Regions from separate parts of the Homo sapiens genome. Here region 2 is reported to be linked to region 1. The links are microRNA targets in miRTarBase. Many come from high-throughput screens and were not tested one by one. Region 1 holds a microRNA gene; the other region holds the end of a gene's coding sequence.

The links. The annotated mature microRNA hsa-miR-532-3p reads CCUCCCACACCCAAGGCUUGCA and lies in region 1 at 5,237-5,258, shown strand. An mRNA with a match to its seed (bases 2 to 7 or 8) in the 3' UTR can be bound and repressed. Matches are read on the target gene's strand: a 7mer-m8 pairs with bases 2 to 8, a 7mer-A1 pairs with bases 2 to 7 and ends in A, and an 8mer does both.
Region 2: the mRNA of NUDT9 is a reported target of hsa-miR-532-3p. Seed matches in the 3' UTR shown: 7mer-m8 at 2,446-2,452 and 7mer-m8 at 2,884-2,890.

The regions. Positions count from the first base shown.
Region 1 is chrX:49,997,968-50,006,295 of GRCh38, forward strand. MIR532 (microRNA 532) reads left to right here and starts at 5,181; the gene lies at 5,181-5,271. The region is part of intron 3 of CLCN5 (chloride voltage-gated channel 5); the gene reads left to right. MIR188 (microRNA 188) reads left to right here and starts at 5,536; the gene lies at 5,536-5,621.
Region 2 is chr4:87,456,404-87,464,067 of GRCh38, forward strand. NUDT9 (nudix hydrolase 9) reads left to right here. Exons shown (of 8, transcript NM_024047.5): 8 at 1,440-3,052. The coding sequence ends at 1,618. SCPPPQ1 (secretory calcium-binding phosphoprotein proline-glutamine rich 1) reads right to left here. Exons shown (of 10, transcript NM_001405228.1): 7 at 7,011-7,040; 8 at 6,861-6,889; 9 at 5,564-5,601; 10 at 4,399-4,580. The coding sequence ends at 6,875. Among named protein-coding and RNA genes, the nearest start is that of SCPPPQ1, 11 kb to the right of the region's middle.

The DNA of each region.
Region 1 (8,328 bases):
AGCTAAACAGTTGGGGTCAGGGGCATTCATGAGGATCTTTGAGTGATATTTCCCTAGAGAGGCCCATTTTCCTGTTGCTGATGCTAACAAAGATAGTTAACATTTGGCACTGGCAGTGTCCAGACACTGAGCTCAGCACTGGTCATAGTGTCCTGGTTAATCCTTGCAACAACCCTAAGAATCAGGGACTCCCGCCCTCCCCATTTTACAGATGATGAAATGCAGGCATAGGGAGATTAGGCACAGCTGTTAATGGCAGAACCAGGCATTCCAAAGCTGAGACTATACTGTACTGCTCAAACGACACAGGTGTAGAAGGTGTATGGCAGCCTGAGCCCCATTTCCTGTTTGCATATTCCTGCTCATACATGCACAGGAATATATACTTAATGGGGTACGGTCACTGGACCCTTCTCACTTACTCTCTCACCACCCCCTCTGCTCCTGCCATTTTGTGGGCACCCACATAGACGTAGTGCTGCAAAGTGAGCCTCCTTTTGAGCAGATCCACACAAAATGTGCAGATAAACAAGCCTTCTACCTCAGGCCTGCAGCACGCCTGCTTTCTGACCTGCTTGGTACGTTTCGGGCCCAAAGTGTCAGAGTGTGGATTTTCACAATCCCCCTCCCACATTTTAAGTTTGCAGGCAAATGAACCTTAATGTGCCTTCTCTACTTCCCTCCCTCCCTCCTTCCCTCTCACACTCAGAGTGCCAGAAAGAAGAACCTGCTGACTCCACCACTCGTCTATATGTCTTGACTGTAGGAGAGAGAGCTTTCCTGATCCCATTCCTATTTGTGGAGTCTGTGGGAGAGCAAGCCATCTTGCCTTCTTGTTATTTCTCTCCTTCACCCATGCATGACACTGCAAAGGGTTTGCTGGCTTGAGTCTTCTACACACACACACACAGTCTGAGACATCTGATGTGTTCACCCTCCCATTTGCCTTGAATGGTAGTGTGTGTGTTTTTTAATTCCACTCTTATATACACAACTTACAGGAGAGTGAATTTTCTAGTGCCACCCCCCCGCCATAGGCTATGTGCCCCCTTGCTTTTTTTCACCCAGCATCCAGAGTCGAGATTGTTTAGTGCCCTTCTTACAGGCCTTGTTGGCAAGAGTGAGCATTATTATGGGACACCCTCCCCACCCCCGACACAGATGATGCACACAGGAGTACAAGATGATGAGGCTCCTGATCACCCCACGCCTCCTTAGACCTACGTCTGTGTACATCCTCTGTCTGTGAGGGAGAGAGGAGGTGACTCCTTACCTGTTTGTCTCACATGCCTCACACATTGGGGTGTGAGCTGTCTCAGTTCCCTCCCACACATGAGGTTTACAGATGTGCAAGCTTTCTGAGCTGTGCCCTGCCTCTTAAACCCAGCATGCCTTCTTAGTGCTCTTCCCACAAGCATGCATTATTGGAGAGTGGACTTTGCTTTTTTTTTTTTTTTTTAACTTGCTGAGTTGAAGTATTTGAAGGATAGTGGGCCTAAAAAAACTGGCTCTGGCACAGGCACATGTGCCTTCACATGTGTACACACATGTACACCACGAGGGAGATGAATCCTTCGGCCTGTTAGTGTTTGCTTTGTATGGTAGATGTGTTGAGGAATAAAAAAAATAATCTGCCCCTTTTAGCTGAGGGGAAAAATAAGTTCAGAAATGGCAGTTGATCCATTAAGGATGGTGGGCAGTTTCTAAGCTATACTCTGTTGGCCAGCAAGTTTAAAGACTAAAGAAAAAGTGTCAGTGTGAACACATATTTGGCTCTTTTCACTATAGTTGGTGTTGTCAAGCAGCTGATACCTGCGGAATAGAATATGAGAATTGTGCTACAACGAATACATTTGCTTTCTTAGTCTGTACATTAAAAGCCCCTTTTTTTACTTGTTTTAAAGGTTGTGGAGCATTGTTTGAATGACAGTTATTTACATTGTAAAAATAGTATGAAATTTATGATATTTTAAAAATTTGCTAGGATTCATCAGTGAGCATTCTTCCTATATCTGCCCTGTCTCTGCTCTCCACTCCCCCAGCTCTCCTGCCCCATGCAGGGGTGCAAGCCTCTCAAGCTATCCCATCCCACCTTGACCACACAGAACTACAGTGAGCTTTTTATTTTAAATATGCTTCCCCAAACCTGTTGGACTGTGGGTTTCCCCATCCGCCTCCTGCTTGCAGCCTCTCTCTCTAATCCTGCTTTTCTCTTTCTTTCTCTCATGTGCATACACTCATGATATGCATGTAAGGGAGACACCTGAGTTGCCCCATTGCATCCAGCATCGCAGGACTGTGAGCCTTCTATTGCTGCCACTCTCCTACCCCACGCATGGCTTAACCTAAAATAAAACTGACCTCCCAATTGGGAGGTTATTACAACCTCCCAATGCACACACTGGCTGGGCCACAGTGGCGTGTGAACCACTGTGTCAGCCACCTTATTACCCCTTTTCTGTGCATGCCCCCACACACATTTATGATAGGAGCTTGAGCCTCCTTATTCTCCATCCTTGCTCTTTCTCTCTTCCTTTTCCTCCCTCATCTCACATGTGTGTGCCAAGGATGTGCCAGAAAGTGGGTCCTTATCATTTTCAGTTCTCATACACATGTGGGTACACACAGCTTTAGGGTTCAGTGGTTAGGCCCACTGTCTTGGTAGTCAGATTACCTGTGGTAGAATCCTGGCGTGATCTGTAATGAGCTTTGTGATCCTAGACAAGTGACTTATCTTGTGTCTCAATTTCCACAACATGAAAATGAGATAACTAATTGTGCCAACCATATAGGTTTGTAATAAGCACTGAAGGAGGCGACGCATGTATTGGGATTAACATGTAATAAACTTCCTTAATCCATATGCTTTGCCTGGAGCAACTGATTCTCCATAGAAGAAAACTCACACCTAAGCTGCTTGGTCCCATTATTTGAAAATGTTTGGGAAGTACTGCCTTGGATGACTGTTTCATAATTCTTTCCTTTCCTCAAATCTGCAGTGTCACCTCCCTTCCTTCCTCCTCACTCTCAGCTGCTGACTTTGCTTTCTTCTTCCTTGAGAAAATGGAAGCCATCAGAAGGGACCCTCTGAAGTTCCTCTGACCTCTCCTCCATTACCTGCACATGTCCCTAAGTGTCAGCTCCTCCCCATTATGGTAGATGAATTACTGGCACATGTAGCCAGGACCAGTTCCTCCACTTGTATACTAGATTTCAACCCCTGTCACCTATTCAGTGACAGTGCTCCTGCAATTGATCCCCCTCTCCTTACTGCATCATCAACTGTTCTTTGTATACTGGAGTGTTTGTACCAATATCTAGATGTGCTGCCACATATCCTGTCTAAAAATAATTTTAAAAATTAAAAAGCACTACCTTCTCTACCCAAAAAGCTCCTCCAGTTTCTACTCATTTCTCTGTTCCTCTTTACAGAAAAAAAAAAAATTTTTTTGAAGGAGCTGATTGTACTCCATCTCTACTTCTATTTCTCCCATTTACTCTTTTTTTTAAATGTATACTTTAAGTTCTAGGGTACATGTGCACAACATGCAGGTTTGTTACATATGCATACATGTGCCATGTTGGTGTGCTGCACCCGTTAACTTGTCATTTACATTAGGTATATCTCCTAATGCTATCCCTCCCCCCTCCCCCCACCCCATGACAGGCCCCGATGTGTGATGTTCCCCTTCCTGTGTCCAAGTGTTCTCATTGTTCAATTCCCACCTATGAGTGAGAACATGTGGTGTTTGGTTTTCTGTCCTTGGATCCCTTCCTTACACCTTATACAAAAATTAATTCAAGATGGATTAAAGACTTAAATGTTAGTCCCATTTACTCTTGAAAACCCTCCATGTAAAACTGTAACCTGCAGCACTTAAATGACCCTGGTCAAGGTCCCCAGTGTCCTTCACATTTCCCAATTTACTGGGCAATGTTGTCATCTTACTTGACAGATCAACACACAGTTGATCACTCCCTCTGCCTTGAGACTCTACCTGCTTTCCAGGATTCCACACTCATGAGGTTGTCTTCTTACCTCACAAGCCTCTCTTTCTCAGTCTCTTGATGGTTTCTCCTCCTCTTCCTGAATTCTAAGTATTAAAGAGATATAGGGCTTAGTCTTCAGACTTCTTTTTTTTTTTTTAACTTCTCATTAGTCCTCAGCTGTTCTCATCTTGTCTTGCAACTCTAAGTACCATTTTATGTGGATGATTTCTGTGTTTGTATTTCCAGCCTGGACTTCTCTCCTGAATTCCAGATGCCTATGTCCAACTATGTACTGGACATCTGCCCCGAATGTCTAATAAGTATCTCAAAACTTTAACACATCCAAAGCTGAGGTCCTGGTTTTCCTCCCCCTCTCAAAAAGCCCTACTCCTCCCTCTGTGTTCTCCAACTCAGCAAACAGCATTTCCCAATTGCATATGCCAAGGATATGGAGAATTTTAATAAGCTAAAGGTTTTGGATTCATCTTTGACACTTTTTCCCCTCCATTCTCCAAATACAAACTGCTGTCAAATCTTGTTGGCTCTACTTTCAAAATACATGTCTAATCTGACCACACAGCCACTTCTCATACTTCTCACTTCCTCTATTATTTCCACACTAATCCAGCTTTTCCCTGGGCTGACAAGTGCAAGTTCTCTTGCGTCTGTCTGTCTGTCTGTCTCTCTGTCTCTGTCTCTGTCTCTGTCTCTCTCTCTCTCTCTCTGTGTGTGTGTGTGTGTGTGTGTGTGTGTGTGTGTGGTGTGTGTGTGGACACAAAGTGGTTGGTGGCTGAGAGCTTGAGCCTCCTTTTTTGAGTCCTCTTTCTAATGACCTGCATGCCAGATTCTAAGCTTTCTTACCATCTGTTCTCGTATGTGTGTTATTTCATCTGTAAAATAGGGATAATGATCACCTCATGGATATTTTATGAGAATAAATGAGCTATGTGTGAAAAGCACTTAAAACAGTGCTCTGCAAATGTAAATACTATACTGGTGTTAGGAATAAAAATAAAGGAAAAGAAAGAAGGAAGGAAAACAAATATGTTGTAGATAGTGAACATTTCTGAAGGTACATATGTGAATGTACACAAGCACACCTTCTCATTACAGCATGTCTGGGGCACAGTCATAGAAGTCCAAGGCATCTGGGATACGCATGCACACAGTATACAGGAGAGCAGACCTCCCGACTTGCTTTCTCTCCTCCATGCCTTGAGTGTAGGACCGTTGGCATCTTAATTACCCTCCCACACCCAAGGCTTGCAGAAGAGCGAGCCTTCTCTTCCCTCTCCAGTGCATAGGCATGAGCACATGGACAGGTACACCAAAGGGAGGTAGACCCTCTCTTACGTGCTCTGTATGTGGGGTACACTGTTAGCAGCCATCCCATCTGGATGACTGTCCTGCTTCCATGGCCACTGCTCCTAGTTTACCCATCAGCACTCCTGTGGCTATCTTGCTGCCCACTTGCACCCCCCAGGCCAGTGCCTCTTGCCTCCTAGAGCATACCCATATGTCGTGCCAAGAGAGCAAGCCCTTCCCTGCTCCCTCTCTCACATCCCTTGCATGGTGGAGGGTGAGCTTTCTGAAAACCCCTCCCACATGCAGGGTTTGCAGGATGGCGAGCCTCAGCTTTCCTTGCTCTCTTGTGCATGTGTATATACACATACGCACTCCTTCACCAAAAGAAAAACACACACCCATGTGGTGGGAAGGAGAATGACTCTCAGCCATGTCCTTTCTCCCATCTCAGTCTTACATGGATCCTGCAGGAGAGGGAGACTTCTCTTAGCTTTCTCTTGCACATGGTGCAGCCCCTCATACTCAGGGATAGGCACAGCCTAGAGAAGGAAGGGGGGTCTTTTGACCTGGTTCTGTCTTAGCGGCACCTAGAGGAGGAGAGAGAACCTTCTCAGGACTCCTGTACATGGGGCATGATGAAAAGGGAGTCTTCTAGCTAATTCTCACAAACCCAGTTTGTGAGGAAAATTGTGTCTATATCATAACCATATGCAAAGATGTAATATGCACACACATTTTGGGTTCAGAAAGTAGAATCCACTCACTGTGCCATGCCTTTCCATATGCACACTTGTTTGCTCAAGAGGGTGTGTGAAGATCTGTCTTCTTAGACACTCATGTAGATATGAGTCAGATTGTGAGTTTTCTCTGTTATCTCCCCAGACCCAGGATTTGCAGCCGATTCATTTGGTGAGCCACTCATTCATTCAGCAAATATTTATCGAGCAGCTACTGTGTGTTGGGTACTCCCCTATGCACCAGGGATACACCAGTGACCAAAAGACAAGAATCCCTGCCCTAGTGAGGGGAGGCAGGTAGTGAACAAAATAAGTAAGTAATAGATAGTGTGCCAATTGTTGATAAGTGCTCTGGAGAATAATAAGGCAGGAAAAGGGGACAAGGAGTGGGTGGGGGTAGTTACAGCATAGATGGTGGTGGAGAAGTTTCGATATCAAATAGGGTAGTCAGGAAAGGCCTACTGTGTTCTAGGAACAACAAAGAGCCATTGTGGCAGAAGCATAGGGCTGGGAAGTAGTAAGTTACAATGGAAAAAGGGAAAGCTGATAATTACTATGTATCTCTAAAATCTAAGGCCGCTTTTAAAAAAAAAATCATACCATTATCACACTTAAAAATAATTACCATCCAGGCACAGGGGCTCATGCCTGTAATCTCAGCACTTTGTGGGAGGCTAAGGTAGGCAGATCACCTGAGGTTAGGAATTCAAGACCAGCCTGGCCAACATGGTGAAACCCCGTCTCTACTAAAAATACAAAAATTAGTCAGGCCTGGTGGCAGGTGCCTGTAATCCCAGCTACTCGGGAGGCTGAGGCAGGAGAATCGCTTGAACCCGGGAGGCGGAGGTTGCAGTGAGCCAAGATCGTGCCACTGCGCTCCAGCCTGGGTGACAAGAGCGAGGCTTCATCTCAAAAAGAAAAAAAATTGCCAACAATTTTTTAATATCATCACATATCTGTTGTTCCCATTTCCACTTGTCTCAGAAATATCATAAATTAGGATCCAGATAAGGTCCATGCATTGCATTTGGTTGATATGTATCTTAAGTCCCTTTGAATTATATCTTTCCCTTCCATCTATATTTTTTCTTTCCTTATAATTTATTTGTTGGAAGAAAGTGGGCCATTCATCCTATACAGTTTTGCATAGTCTGGATTTTTGTGATCACATCCCTGTGATGTAGTTTACATGTTCCTTCTCCTTGTTTGTATTTCCTGTAAACTGATAGTTGCATCTGGAAGCCTGATCAAATTCAGGCTTAATTTTGAGGAAGGGGGAGCAGAACTACTTCCATTAAGAGGCACAAAATAACTGATGATCATCTTTCTGTGATGTTAGTTGCCACCGATGCTCAATTCTTAGAGCCGTTATTTCATTAGGGGTTGCAAAATGATGATATTCTAATCCCATTATTCTCTTGATTTATTAGCTGGAATACTTCTATAAAGAAAAACTTCCCTTCATCTGCTATTTGATCACCCAGTGTTGCCGTCTTTATAGGCAAGATAGGATAAATGTTTGGTTCTCTTTATTTATCAGTACTCAGAATAATGAGTTGGTTCACTAGCTTACTCTAAAGAGGATTTTTTAAAAAAACTATTATAATAAACTCATAGATTTAAATATATTTGGACTTTTAATCCATTGCAGTTCTTGCCTTCAGTGAAGCTCCAGTGCCCCATCTTTAGCCAGTAGGAGCTTCTTCAAATTGGTTCCTCAGTCCTTTTGACATGCCTCCGTAGTTATCTGATAGCTTCTCCGCTTTCAGAGATGAAAAAAATGTACAAAGCTCATCGCAGATACCTTCCCCAGGCCTGGAATCTGCCATGTCTTCAAGAAGCCCTGGTTTCTTTTAATCAGACATGATATTTAAAGACCATATTTGCCTCTGGATTGGTCATTGTATTTAGGCTTCTACAATGATCAGAACAGAAAAATGTTTTGTTTTTGTGTTTTCTTGTTTCTAGATAAATACATCATGATTCCATTATACTTCTGATTCAAAATCAGGATTACAGTTTTCTGTGTCTTTGCTTCACAAGTATGGTTCTGACTGTTGTATGGCAAATAGGAGGAGAAAGTGCAGAAACTGGGAGACCAGTTAGGAGGCCATTGAAATAATTCAGTTGAGAGATGGATGGAGGCCTACATCAGGGTGATCGTGGTGAAGGTAGTAAAAAGTGGTTATATTTTAAAGTTACAGCCAGTTGAGTTTACTGATACATTGCATGTGAAGTGTGAGAGAAAGAGGAGTAGGAGACTGAGCCCTCTCTTCCCTCTTTGTCACATATGAGT
Region 2 (7,664 bases), not on the chromosome of region 1:
TTGCTTAGGGCTTGGTAAAATAGTTTTCCTTGAGGGCAGAGTGATCTGGGTGTATTTGAAATTGGTTACCTTTCCCCTCTCCATGTTAGAAAGGAGAGAGGATTTTTCTCCAGTCTTCACCTGGTGGCTTTCTTGGAGGTAAAGCTCACTAAAATGTAGGCCCCCTCTTCATACTGGTATGGCTGACCCCCTAGGAGATTTTATCTTTCAAGCTAGTCCAAAGGTCAGCTTTCAGCAGTTAGTTACCCTTTAAGTGTTCCTACCAGGTGCTGACTCCAGCGGTAGGCTTCTCTCCCTGGTCAGTTGTGATTCTCTGTATTTGCCTGTCTCTCCAGTTTTTGGTATGGCAGTGTGGTCTCTACTAAGAATACAAAAAAATTAGCTGGGCGTGGTGGCAGATGCCTGTAATCCCAGGTACTCGGGGGGCTGAGGCAGGAGAATCGCTTGTACTCAGGACGCGGAGGTTGCAGTGAGCCGTGATTGTGCCACTGCACTTCAGCCTGGTCAACAACAGCGAGACTCCATCTAAAAATAAATAAAATAAAATAAAATATTTAAGTAATGTTGCCTTGAATACTTTAATAGGCTTGTCTCTATTTCATCAGAATAAATTCTTCAAAGAGGAATTACTGGATTGCTTATTGTATCTTCAGTGCCTAGTACAGTCTGGCACACAAGATGCACTCTGATATTTACAGAATGAGTGCTTGTCAAAGAAAACTTACTTTTTAAAAGCTCTTGATAAACATTGCCAAATTTCCTACAGAAATATTCCATTTATATTCCCAGCAGTGATTGGGAGCACTTATTTTTTATTTTTTTGATAATTTAAATTTTTTTTTTTTTTTTTTGAGGTGGAGTCTCACCCTGTTGCCAGGCTGGAGTGCAGTGGTGTGATCTTGGCTCACTGCAACCTCCACCTCATGGATTCAGACAATTCTCTTGCCTCAGCCTCCCAAGTAAGCTGGGACTGCAGGCATGTGCCACCACTCCTGGCTAATTTTTGTATTTTTAGTAGAGATGGGGTTTCACCATGTTGGCCAGGCTGGTCTCGAACTCCTGACCTCAGGTGATCTACCCGCCTCAGCTTTGTTTATTTTTTTACATTTAAATCTCTCATCCCTCTTGGACTGATTTTGATGTAAGGTTTCATATTCATGTAATATAATCTCGTTTTTAAGGATAATCTTTTTAGAGAAAACTCTTTGTGTTTATCTAAAATTTAGGGACTTGGTTAAAATTTGGACATTTTGGAATACTCTAGTTTTTTTTCTTTTATTCATTCTGCTGACCAGGGATGGAATGGTCTAGTTTTTAATTCACTTGGCCGGCTAGTACAATGATGATATAAGATTATTTTAAATAAGAATACTTGACGACATAGATATGCTAAAACAGAAATGAGTTTTTCTTGGTGATGGTTTTTCTTTGGCAACCAGGTGAGATAATGGATAATCTTATGCTAGAAGCTGGAGATGATGCTGGAAAAGTGAAATGGGTGGACATCAATGATAAACTGAAGCTTTATGCCAGTCACTCTCAATTCATCAAACTTGTGGCTGAGAAACGAGATGCACACTGGAGCGAGGACTCTGAAGCTGACTGCCATGCGTTGTAGCTGATGGTCTCCGTGTAAGCCAAAGGCCCACAGAGGAGCATATACTGAAAAGAAGGCAGTATCACAGAATTTATACTATAAAAAGGGCAGGGTAGGCCACTTGGCCTATTTACTTTCAAAACAATTTGCATTTAGAGTGTTTCGCATCAGAATAACATGAGTAAGATGAACTGGAACACAAAATTTTCAGCTCTTTGGTCAAAAGGAATATAAGTAATCATATTTTGTATGTATTCGATTTAAGCATGGCTTAAATTAAATTTAAACAACTAATGCTCTTTGAAGAATCATAATCAGAATAAAGATAAATTCTTGATCAGCTATAACTTCTGTTTCATCTAGTTCTTGTTTGTCAATGCCTTCCCTCCCGCTCCCCATCTTCTGAGGCCTGAAGGATGTTCCTGCCACATCAAACTCCTTTAGGCAGAGTACCGCCACTGGATGTATAGTTTAATGTTTCATCTGATTTTTCTTTAAATTATTTCCTTCACATTTTGCTTCACATGATCTTGTTGAAGCTAATTTTGAAAATGGAAACTATGTTTTCTTGACTTTAGAAGCATTAGTTTTAAGAGGAAATTTCAGCCACTAGTCAATAGAGATCAAAATCAGTGAACAAGAGCTGATACTCTCATTTTCAAAAATTCTGAATTAAAAAAAGTCCAGGAAGTTAGTAATTTAAATCAGTATGTTCATTTCACTCTAGTGAAACTACTATATGTTGTAAATTAGTTAAAAATGGATGTTCAGAAAAGAATTGAAATCAGGACAAAAAATTACAGATGCTAGTGAGGTTGTAGAGAAAAAGGAATGCTTATACGCTGTTAGTGGGAGTGTAAATTGGTCCAACCATTGTGGAAGAGAGTGTAGAGAGTCCTCAAATATTTAAAGATATTTGACCCAGTAATCCCATTACTAGGTATATACCCGAAGGAATATAAATTGTTCTATTATAAACACATACTCACGTGTATGTTCATTGCTGCACTATTCACAATAGCGAAGACATGAAATCAACCTAAATGTTCATCAGTGATAGACTGGATAAAGACAATGTGGTATATGTACACCATGGAATACTATGCAGCCGTAAAAAAGAATAAGATCATGTCCTCTGAAAAGACATGGGTGGAGCTGGAGGCCATTATCCTTAGCAAACTAATGCAAGAACAGAAAACCAAACACTGCATGTTCTCTTATAAGTGAGAGCTAAATGGTGAGAACACATGGACATGGGAACAACACATTCTGGGGTCTATTGGAGGGTGGGAGGAGGGAGAGGATCAGGAAAAATAACTAATGAGTACTAGGCTTAATACCTTGGTGATGAAATTATCTGTACAACAAACCCTCATGACACAAGTTTACCTATGTAACAAACCTGCACATGTACCCCTGTACTTAACAACAAAATAAACACAAAGGAAAATGTTAGCCATGTGTGAATTTTAAACTTCTTGGTAGTCACATTAAAAATAAAAAGAAACAAGTAAAATGGTTTGTAATTATTTAATCCATTATATCCAAAATATCTTAATATGTGATCAATATATAATTATTAAGTAATTATTTTGGTTCTATAAAAACAGGAACAGAGGTGGAGGTCTCTGTGAGTTAGTGTTTTTTTGTTAGGAAAGAAATGTTAAAGATTGAAATAGATTTTTGAGAAAAGCATGGTTAATGTTATAAATCCCAGAGGAAAGGAGGGGGTTGGTGCTTTGGGGGTTTTTGGAAGCAAGGAAAAGGAAAGAAAAGTAGTACTGCCTTGTCTTAGTGGACATGTTTATCTCATTCTGGCTAAGGATCTCTGTTGGAAAGCCCTGTGATAGGAACTCCTATCCACCTAAGTAGGGTTGGGCTATAGCTGGAGCATCTCAGGAAAAGCTTTAGGGGAGACAGACATTATTGTTTTCTTTCCTTCAGATGTTTGAAAAAGATTAGGCTTCTGTAGCTAGAGAGCAGAATTACGGTTAAGGTAAAACAAAGTGTTGTTCTGTTTTTTGTTTCGTTTATTTGATGTCAGAAATTTTGGTGGTAAACCTGAATTGAACTGACAGGAGGCTTTTTTCCCCTTAGTTACGACTGTAGATTTTCCTGAAAAGCATTAGAATGTTTGATTTCAGGATACCTTGAACCCTTCTGGAGTAGTTATAAATAGGGCTTATGTATGTATTAACTTCTAAAAATCCATAAAATCCTGGTCCCTACGGTGAGTAATAAGGGATTGATACTTGATGAGGATGACCTGCTCAAGAGGTTAGATGGCCTTCCTGCATGGAAGAGTTGGCTTCTACTTTCACCATTTGGCAGGAAGAAATTGCTTCTTCCTATCACTGAATGGAGTTCTCCAAAATTGAAGCTACTTGTTTACAAAAGCTCTTTTAACAGTTTGAGCAATTTTCTGAAAATTTTGGCCTTTACTTGTGTGTCATAGTATTTTGAGACAGGGTCTCATTCTGTTGCCCGTGATAGCACCACTGGAGTGCAATGGTGCTCTTATGGCTCACTGCAGCCTCAACCTCCTGGGCTCAAGCAATCCTCCCACCTCAGCCTCCTAATTAGTTGGGACCACATGTGTGCACCACCACACCCAGCTAATTTTTTTATTTTTTTTTTGTGGAGACTGGAATTTCCCTATGTTGCCCAGGCTGGTCTTGGACTCCTGGGCTCAAGAGATCCTCCCACCCCAGCCTCCCAAAGTGTTGGGATTACAGGTGTGAGCCACCATGCCCAGCCTGTTTAATAGTTTTGATACATTTGAACTGCCATTAATAAAGACATTTGGTTATATTAAAGGTTTATTTAAAGTATGACTAAAGCCCATGGTCTAGATACATTCTTTATGGTTTTTTGGAGTTTTCACTGGAACATGCACAAAGTATGCAAAATTATAAAACTACCATCAACTATAGTTAAGATAGAAGTAGATACTCTTCTGATAACTGTAAATATCCAGCACCATCTATAATAGGGAAAAAACAAAATGTTAGTTTCAGATATTCCTAGAGGAAGATCTATCTGCTATATCACTAGGTAATATTCCCTTCATACTTATTTTCCTTATGTCTTATGTAAAATGAATGTTTTTTATTTTAGAGACATTTAGTAAAATAAGTAATAATATTTGCCATTTACTGAGTATCTATTATATTTCTTAATTCTATCCACATCCTGTTAGGTAGTAGTATTCCCATTTCACAAATGAATACATTGATATTTAGAAAGGTTGCCCGCAGTTTTATTTGCTAGTAGAGTTGGGATTTGAATCATGGTCTGACTGGGTTGCAAAGCTATTCTGTCTGTTGTATTCCCTACTAAGGTTAAGAGTCTTTTATGATACATTATTTAAGTATGCAGCTTGGAAGATTATGTGTAACATAAGTAGTACTCATGTTATTCATAGTATTGCAGTTATGATTTGTGAGTTGAAATTTAAGGGCCACACCTGATTTGGCTAGCATTGTTGAAGTTGTTTGTGTAATTTTGGCCCAAAGATAGTTTATTTGATGATAACCTAAGGATAAAGGGCCACAGTCAGTGTTTGTTTTGTCAGCAGGTGTTCTTGAGCTTTTGAAAGCATTTCAAACTCAAATAGAAGGATATGCAAAGTTTCCTTAGGATCATAACTACTTTAAATATTTGGTGGCTAAAGGGGGAACTTGAAAATTCTGAGCACTTCGAGAGGCTATTCTTATTTAACAGTATGTTTTCTTATGCTTAGGACTTCTGGTGGTGGTTATTTTCTAAAATATTTCTGGAGTTTTAATAAACTGACTTTAAAATACATCCTTTGAAGAAAGCATTTGTAATTAATTGGTCTTGTTTACACCTATTTTCATCATATTATTAATTTACCGTTGTGGACACAATCAGAGGCAATTAAACTCATGATAAAAATATTGAAAAGGATATAAATGCATGAAAGAATTTGGAGATTTTACTAACCATACGTAACTTCTGGCATAGTAGTGGGAGAATTATTTCTGTCAAAATAGATAATACAGATTATAGTTATAATTTATATGAAGATATTTTCACCACAATTCCTTCTTCACCCATGCCTCCCATTTTATGGTTATTTTATTGCTGATGTGTTAATATTGGTATAATCATGTATGTTGGAGGTGGAAAATAATGTGGAACTGTTAAATGCTGATAAATTGAATCCTTAACTGTTTACAGCATAGAGCTTAATCTCTCCCACTTGGCCTCAGATAGTCTAAGTATTTGAAATGGTAAAAGGTACTAAATAAGCACTTCAGGGCAATGTAACTTGTTAGGAGAGAAGCAGTTGGGTGGAAATCCAGTTTCTTTCTCCAAGGCTGTAGTACATACACTATGATTGGGCCCGTGAATAGCCTCTGTAGTCCAGCCAGGACAACATAGCAAGATCCTGTTTCTTAAAAATATTAGAACAACAAAAGGGATATATACCTTTTTGGTCTCCACGTTTTTCTTTCTTTCTTTCTTTCTTTCTTTCTTTTTTTTGGTATGTATTTTACATGAAAGCAAACTTCAGTGAAAGTCAAAGTAGAAGTCAAAGTTTGTAGCCTTTGTATCCAGCAAGTTAATGCTTTTTGTTAAGATGTGTTACCTTGCCTTGAGATCAGTCCATTTCTAGGTGTGGCAGTTTTACAGTAGGCTTTTCTCATTATTTACTATGAATTGCCTATAAGACAAAAATAAGCCTGAAAGCCTGGGCACAGTGGCTCACGCCTGTAATCCCAGCACTTAGGGAGGCTGAAGCGGGTGGATCTCTTGAGGTCAGGAGTTTGAGACCAGCCTGGCTAATGTGGTGAAACCCCGTCTCTACTAAAAATGTAAAAATTAGCCAGGTGTGGTGGCACATGCTTGTAATACCAGCTACTAGGAAGGCTGAGGCAGGAGAATCGCTTGAGCCTGGGGGGGCAGAGGTTGCAGTGAGCCGAGATCACGCCACTGCACTCCAGCCTGGGTGACAGAGCAAGACTCCTCAAAAAAAAAAAAAAAAAAGCCTGAAGCAAACTTTGTTGTTTGAAATTTCATATTGCATATATGCCTGTAAATTTAAATTTTGTGAAATATCAAGGACATTATTAAAAAATACCTTTTTAGACTGGCAAAAATTTTGATGTAAAGATTTTGGAGGAAATGAGTTTATAACTTATGAGTTCTAGTTTGGTAGATCAGTTGAGGTTGACTCTCATATTTTTATAGTTACAAAGAGTTTCTCTTACCTTTCGTGGCATTGAATATAACTTACCTTTATCAATTTAGTCATGGAAATAAAATCTTACCCCAGAGAAGTTCCAAAAGTTAAAAAAAAAAACAACAAAAAAAAATTTAGTAAGATGTTATCTTTAGTCTATTAAGTAAATGTGTAGTTTATTATAGCATAAAAATAGAGCCTTACCCCTAGTTGGTTCAAAATAGCAATGAGTAACTGTGAAGGAAGAAAAATTGATGATCAGTGCTGTCAATAGGTTAATTTTTAAACCTACATTTAACTTATTACATATGCAAGTTAGTATACTTTGTATACAAAAATCTATTTTATTGAAAAATTCCATTTTATTGCTTAGTATATTATTTATATGATACAAGATTTTAAAATGACAATATCTGGATTTAAATACCTTTAATTCACAGAAATATTTTCTTTCTACAGCTTTGTAATGATATTTACCATATTTGAAAGTTAGAAAATTGATTTGAATGGTTAAGAAACCCTCTGTGTACACTTCCATACAAGTCCCATCTTTCATAAATGATTCAGATTCCCTGTGTGAATGATACTTGAACTAAAATTTTAGGACAACTATGAATACTTTGTTTTGAGAACTTGCTTATACAAGCAGTTTTACTGGAAAATTGTTTTGTAGCATCCACATGGTCCTGTTTTAAGATTCTGGCAGCTTGCTCAAGAAATTGACCAACTCCGTCTAAAAGGTGAATCTCTTTACTTGTTGAGCTGTCTGTCTTAGAGTGTATGCAGTAATATTTAAGCTAAACACTGTCCCAACTGTGACAGATCTTAGGCACGAACAATGCCCTCAGGTAGCGTTTG